Homo sapiens: one gene and its partner. The protein of the gene in region 1 interacts with the protein of each later gene in a pairwise test. Each region holds a gene or a part of one and is shown in the gene's direction. Other genes may lie near its edges.

Region 1 (3,600 bases):
GCTAACACTGAGAGGAGAAGACTGGAAGAGGCTATTAACATTTATTCAGCAATTACTGTGTACCCGGTATTCTGCTCTGCATTTTGTATTATCACACCAACCTTTTCTAGCAGTGTTTTTCAAACTGCCAGTCATGATCAACAAGAAGGAGAATAAGATAGGATAGGATAAGCATAGAAACTATCAGTGCGTCACAAGTAGTAAGCATTGTTTTCGGAAACTTTATGACACTCTCATACAAATAGCAGTGTACTGGTCTGTATGCAAAATGTATTTCTCTTGATGGACTATGTTTTTTTTTGTTTGTTTTTTTTTTTTTTTTTTTTAAGCCATCGCGCTAAGGTGTAGGTGTGATTAACCTCGTTTTACTGATGAGGACATGAAGCTCAGGGAGTTTCGGTACCCTGCCTAAGTTAGTGGGATGTGTAGGTTTCAAACCCAGACTGGTCTGAAGCCAGAATGGATTCCCTCACTAAGCTAGGCAGCCTTCCCAAGTTCTCGGAAGAGACTTGGGAGCAAAGATAAACCTACCCGCCTAGTGCCTACCAAGTGCTTTACCTCATCTCAAGAAGGTAAGGGTAAGTGGGGCAGAGGCCAAGCAGTACTTCTCAAACTCAAGCGTGCAATTCTGTCCACGCGAGGCCCTTGCTAAAATGCAGATTCTAGGCACGCCCCGTGAAGTACCGAGTCGGATTAGGAGAGGCGGCCAGGGGAGCCTGCCTTTAGAAAGAGCTTCGGATGATTCAGATGCACACGTTTGGGACCGTGGGCTATGGGGGTCGCCGCAATAACCATGTGAGGATTAACGGGGGCTTAACCGATTGTGAAAATCCCCTTAGAAGTGTCGCGTAAACAACCCCAACTCCCACTATGGTGCCGGACCCCAGTGCCTCACTGTACAAAGTCGCCCCTCCCCAGGCGACAACGAGAGAGGGACTAAATAAAAGGTTGATGGCTTTCCACTCACCAGGCATGGGGTTGAGTGGCAGCCGGCTACTGCCGAAGAGCAGGTAAAAGCTCCTGCCACACCTGGGCGAGACTGGACTTAGGGCGCAATGTATATGCTATTTCTGGGGCATTTGTGGGCCTCACCCTAAGGACTTCTGATTGGCTTCAGGGCAGATCTATCATTCATCCTCTGGGTTAGAGGTGGGTGGAAGGTCAACCTCGACCAATACAAAAGCACTCTTCGGCTAAGCCCCTCCCCTTCCAGCTTCCTGTTGCTGTACATCAACCACCCAGCGGGCGGGACTTTGCCTCCCTCCAATTGGCTGATGCACATGTCACTCATTATTCAATTGGCTTTCGGTTGGTGCGCTCTACCGTCCATCAGTGACATTGCACAGACCTATTGGTCAAATCAACGTCGCTCTAGACGCCTCTGGTTGATTGGTTAATAGTGCTGTCGGTCCCCAATGTTCCAAGCGCTTATTGGTGAAGGCTGCCGTCGCTCGGGCGGTGGCGGGCTCCGGGATTGGCGGTTGCTTGGCGGGCGGTGTCAGGCTCTCGGTGGCGGCGGAGGCGGCGGAGGCCAGGGAGGAAGATGTCGTAATGAGCGGTGGGTCCCGGCCGCTGCCGGCGGGGTCTTCCCGGCCCCCAAGGGTCAGGAAGACGGGCAGAGGCCGCGGGGAGAGGGAGCCGAGGCCGGGGGTTCCCCCCTGGGGCTGGGTCTGGCGTCGGGGCCCGGCTTCAGGAGGGGCGGGGGAGGGAGGATTCCCGCCCGGAGGAGGAGCGGGGCTGGCCAGCCGGGCGGAGGCACCCGGAAGGGGGCGTTCGACTCCCCGCCCCCTCGGAGCCCGCCGGGCGGGAGGGCGGCGCTTCCGGGGGCCGGCGAGAGGAGCGGGCACCGGGGTGGCCTGGCACCCCTCGGACGGGTGCCGACCCACTTCAACGCCGCTCTCCCGCCTGGGCGAACTATGCCTGGGTCGGCTCTGAGGAGGCAGCCAACAGCCCTTGTGTTCGCCCCGTGTCTGAGAGGCCTTCCTGCACTCTTAACTGTAGATGCCCACCAGCGATTCAGGGCTCCCCGGAGAACAGAGAGGGGCGAGGGAACGCTTGAGACCCGGACGCTGCCAACCAGATGGGCACTGCTCGGCATCGACGACAGCCCGGTTACTGATATATCCCCAGTCGGGCGATGGTGTCAGGACACGAGAGCACTCCCTGGGCAGATGACCTCTCACCGGGGAGTGGGCAAAAACCTTCCTTTAATGTTTTTACTTGGATCCTTGATCTTCCAGCTAGATATCTGCAAGCTCTTAGCAGAATTGTGAGAAGTTTGAGAACTTCTTGCCAGAGCTCCCAGCCTGTTACTTGACGCCCCGTAGGGGAGACTACTGCAGTCCCAAAGCTCAGGCGCAAACAATCTTAAGGAATTACAGAAGAAATAAAACAAAATAGATACTCGCTCTCTTCCTGTACCCACCTCCATCCCCATTGCTGACTTACGGTTTTCAGCCTCTTATCCATGCTTCTTATGTTTCCTTGCCAGCGGCTTTCTAATTTTAGTTCAGAAGGAACTATGTTTTCTCCTCTGGGCAACTGAGAAACCTGTCCTCACTGCATTCCTTGGTTTTGATTGCAATATCCTGTCATGTTTGTTTCTTAATTAACTTCATCCAAGGGGACTCAGTCTGGCCTTTCTCAGTGCATTCTCCCAAAGTTCTTTCTTCTTCTGAGGTTACTTCTTGTTCACTTATTGTTTCCTAGAGAAAGGTATGAGCCAGTAGATCTGCTTTAAACAATGAATTGGCCCAAGTTTCCCGTTTACAGATTTCATTACAGATGGACACTGTTTCAAGGTGCACTGGCATGCACTGTCTAAAACGGTTTCATGCTGTACCCCAGAAGGCATTCAGTTTCACAGTGGAGGGCTGTATTGAGTTGGTATTCTGGATGATACAATTTTTAGGGCTAGAAAGTTTAGAGTGTTGGCTGGCTCACAGGCTGCAAAGGAAATAATGGTGGAGTCCAGACCACAGCAGTAATTTCAATTACTAACACAAAGAAACCCATTGTCTGCAATAATGAATATAACTGCAGTGTCTTGTTTTGTTTTAAATTCTTGTGTGCGATGAAGGGGGCGAATCTATCAGACAACCTATCAATTGGGCTGATGATGTCAGTGTTCCAGTGGCTTCTAACAGGCGTTAATACCTGTTGGAAATGGATTATCATTGGCTGGGACGATTGGTAAGTTTTCTAATTCTAGTTCTTCCTCTTGGTTGTACAGAGGCTTAACCTCTTTGGTTAAAAGCAACTACAAGAAAAAAAGCGAGTCTGACATAATTATGAACCCCCCTGAGCTAGGCTGCTGAAGCCAGAAACTCTTTGCCAAGGAGACCCAAGTAGAGTTTGTTAATAATCGGATCCTCACCTGACTGCCCAACGGGGAGAACTGGCTCCGGGAGAAAGAGTTTGGCATCACTCTGGACAGCAGATAGACTGGCCACTTTTTTCTCTCAGATTCTATTAAAGTTTGGGCCTCTGGAGAGGCCTGTCAGAGAGGAGAAAAGAAATTATAAGATTTGGGCAAATGTCTGGGGTAAAGAAGCTTTATGGCATTTCAGCAAGTAGAGTGGTTGGTTCATTTGGATATTT
Region 2 (3,726 bases), on another chromosome or scaffold:
GTCCGTTTTGGGAACAGAACTAAAGCCAAAAAATGGGAGAGGCTGGGGAGAAGCAAGAAAGTGGTAGCTGAAGGCAATGAAAATCTTTGTAACAACAGGTTGTAATTATGACAACCTAATACTTAGTAGGTGCTCAGTAAATGTTTGTTGAATGAAGCTGAATGAATAATATGTAAATAAAATGTAAAGGTAAATGAAATCTCAGCTAATATGAATGGCAATCCTGCTGGCCACAGAGCAGTTAACCTTCTTATCTATGTGGAATATTTTCCATTTGTCTCAGGCTCACTTGTTTATTCTGCAACATTTCTGGAATACTAACTTTGTATGGGCTCCTGCCCTCAGGCATCTTATAGGCTGTTGGAAGGAAAAGGACCAAAATAAGGAACAATAGTAAAAAATAGTCATGAAGCCTGTCATACCTGTTCCCTTTCTTGTTCCTCATAGCCTCATGGGTAGGCCTGCAGGGGTTGTTTTTGGCCATGGTGAGGACATTTGAGAGGACAGTCCTTGTCTTGCAGGCTGGCTGTGATGATTCCAGGAAATGGTACACAGAGGACACTGCTGGCCAAATGTTCCATAGGAACACATGTGCATGCACACCGCAGTCTTCTTTCTAGTTTACCGAGCTGCTCCCAGCAGTTGTCATTATATATGCAGTTCTACATGTCAGTACATTTATCTAAAATCCATTCACAGTCCACACATAAGATTTTAAGTACTTGTGATAAATGTTGTCTTTGTTCCACTCCCGGTCCCTCCCCTTTTCTCCTCCCCTCCTTTGGCCCAGAGGGCTGCACAGTGCCTCTCTCGGAAAAAGTACTTCATAGGTTTGCCATGAGGACTGCTGGGACCAAGGCCACTTGCTCGCCAGGGTGTTTCATATTCCAGTCAGATGATCTGGGTGATACGGGTTTGGTTTGGAGCCCACCTTCCAAGAATGAAAGAGGCCACTTACCACTTTGTCTGACACTTTGCAGTCCGCCTTCACTGGCTGAAAGACTGACTCTTAGGACTTCTACCCCAAACCATAGCACCTAGGGTCCATGTGTTCTGTTTGAGCCTCAGAGTTTGAGATGAGTGGGTGGTTGAGGGAGTAGGCATTCATTAGAGAGATGGGTGTGGGAACTATCTATTATGTGCTCCAGGATTCTCGATGTCACTTTGTGCTGCCAACTCTTGACGTAGCCATCAGTGCTAGATTAGGAGGGGTGCTTGCTTGCTTACTACCCATTGAGCACCTGCTGGGCACTTTATATGCATTGTCTCATTTGATCTTTATGACCCTCTTTTGGGTGGTGGGCTGGTGGATCAGACCCTGCAGCTGACATACCAACTCTACCATCTTGATTCTTACAGATTACACAGACAGAGGTCCAGCAAGGACAGCAGCAGTTCAGCCAGTTCACAGATGGACAGGTAGGGTACCCAACCTGGGCTGGGCAGAGGGTGAGGATTTGCGGGGCAGGGTAGCAGGTAGTATCTGGGTTTGGATGGTTAGGGCAACTGTCCTGTCCTCTACTAACAGTGAGTGGACAGAAATTGTTAAAACAAGTACGGTATTTAAATCAGGGCACCTATCCTTTAGTTTTATAGACTTAGTGGGAACTAAAATAATCTTAGACATGTAGCCCAAATTGCCATTTTACAGATGAGTAAACTGAACCCTGGAGATGGGAAGTGCCTTGTCCATGCTCCCCTAGATGTTCATTGCAGAGCCAGGACTAGAGAGCAGGTTTCCTGTTTCCCTCTCTAGAACTGTATTTTTTTCCCCTCTAAGCCATGATGCTGTTTTAATAGCATGGACTGTTGAGACGCAGAGAACACGTGACCTCTTGAGCTCTCTGGGTGCCTGAAATTCAGTCATTTTCAGTCCATGCGAGGAGAGAATCTTCCCTTTTCCCTCTGCTTTCCCCTCACAGTACAGTCCCAGAGACCACTGAGGACATGATAGGATGACATGCCCAAACTTGTGCCCTCTGCTGCTCAAAAGGGAGAAGAGCTGGCATCAGGACCCACCTCTGGCTTCTGCCAGCACCACATGCTAGGCTTACATGCCAGGGCTCCCATGAGGGCTTGGCTTTTGGCTTCTTTGGGGAGCGCCTGGGAAACCAAGTAGTCAATTAGCCCTGACCTTCCTAAGTGGCTGTGTGAGTATCTTCTCCACCCCTGGAGCGTCTTGGCTATAGTTAAGTGTTTAATACCAGGCCACCTCCTTAGCAGGGTCCATGGAGAAAATTCAAATTCAGTTTAGTTTCAACCTGAGCCAGATATTCTGAGAAAAGAAGGAGAGGAGGGGGTAATCCTACTGCCCCTGCCAGTGTAGATTACCAAGAGTTGGGGAAATGCTGACTTCCAAGCTGCTGGTACAGTGGTTCGAATTGCTTGTGTTTGCCACAGAGGAACAGCGTGCAGCAAGCTCGAGTCTCTGAGCTAACGGGAGAGGCAGAGCCCAGAGAAGTGAAAGCCACAGGAAATTCAACTCCCTGCACCTCTTCCCTGCCCACCACACACCCCCCCTCACACCGGGCTGGTGCCTCCTGTGTCTGCTGCTCCCAACCCCAGCAGAGCTCCACTTCCCCTCCTCCTTCTGACGCCTTGCAGTGGGTGGTGGTTGAGGTATCTGGGACCCCCAACCAGCTCGAGACCCATAGGGAGCTGCATGCCCCTCTCCCAGGGATGACCTCACTCTCTCCTCTCCACCCCTCGCAGCAGCTCTACCAGATCCAGCAAGTCACCATGCCTGCGGGCCAGGACCTCGCCCAGCCCATGTTCATCCAGTCAGCCAACCAGCCCTCCGACGGGCAGGCCCCCCAGGTGACCGGCGACTGAGGGCCTGAGCTGGCAAGGCCAAGGACACCCAACACAATTTTTGCCATACAGCCCCAGGCAATGGGCACAGCCTTCCTCCCCAGAGGACCCGGCCGACCTCAGCGCCTCCTGCAGGCTAGGACACTGGTGCACTACACCCCATGCCTGGGGGCCGAGATTCTCCAGCAGAAAGATGCAATATTTTTTGTTTCCTTTTTTTCCATTTTTTTCTCTAAGGAATCAATATTTCAATATGTTGAGTGTGTGTCCAATGCTATGAAATTAAAATATTAAATAACATATTTATGGCATTTTCTTGAAGAGTGTGGTTGAAGAAATATTTCTCCTTTTGTTTTTCTTTTTTTTTTGTTTGTTACTGCCACTTCTTTTTAGGAGCAAATCTCCCCAGGGGTGTACGGTATTTCTTGACTCTGGGAACAGCTGCTACCCCCAAGACTTGCCACGTTGTTCTGCCCTCAGATGGAATTAGGTGAATGTGTGTAGCTGCTTTTTCACTCGTGGTCCTCTCCCCATCCCTTGCTCTGACCCCAGAGCTCTGTGTATTTGCATCCAGAGGCCATGGAAACATTCTTTGCATTTAAGAGACAGATTTATTCCCTGTGGAGAGTGGGTGGATTCATTGCCACACTCTTTTCTCCCAGGGACCCAGGAAACTAGGACTTTGTGTGTTTGCTGCCCACCTCCCTTTTATTTTTTAAATGCATTAAAAACTGTGCTAGTCTCCTTTGCATGGACTTCAAGCTGCATGAAATGCAATAAATCTCATTTTAGATAATTTAGAGTCTGGGTTTCTGTGTCTGGGGGCATTCATGGGGCCACTTTGCTTGGAAAGGTTCATTTGCCCTCAGTTTGTGTGTCTGGGAGAGAGGGCCACCCTTGTGAGAAGGAGATGTT

The links. The genes of interacting proteins can lie anywhere in the genome.
Region 2: the proteins of SP2 (region 1) and NFYC interact in binary tests that used the Homo sapiens proteins (3 or more experiments, as listed by UniProt).

Annotation. Positions count from the first base shown.
Region 1 is NC_000017.11:47,894,736-47,898,335, forward strand, and holds the start of SP2 (transcription factor Sp2), read left to right. Parts: upstream 1-1,500; 5' UTR 1,501-1,551; coding exon 1,552-1,558; exon of another isoform or gene 1,559-1,602; intron 1,603-2,001; exon of another isoform or gene 2,002-2,111; intron 2,112-3,079; exon of another isoform or gene 3,080-3,192; intron 3,193-3,600. UniProt on the Homo sapiens protein: Binds to GC box promoters elements and selectively activates mRNA synthesis from genes that contain functional recognition sites.
Region 2 is NC_000001.11:40,767,997-40,771,722, forward strand, and holds the end of NFYC (nuclear transcription factor Y subunit gamma), read left to right. Parts: intron 1-1,359; coding exon 1,360-1,419; intron 1,420-2,400; coding exon of another isoform or gene 2,401-2,712; coding exon 2,713-2,832; 3' UTR 2,833-3,607; downstream 3,608-3,726. UniProt on the Homo sapiens protein: Component of the sequence-specific heterotrimeric transcription factor (NF-Y) which specifically recognizes a 5'-CCAAT-3' box motif found in the promoters of its target genes.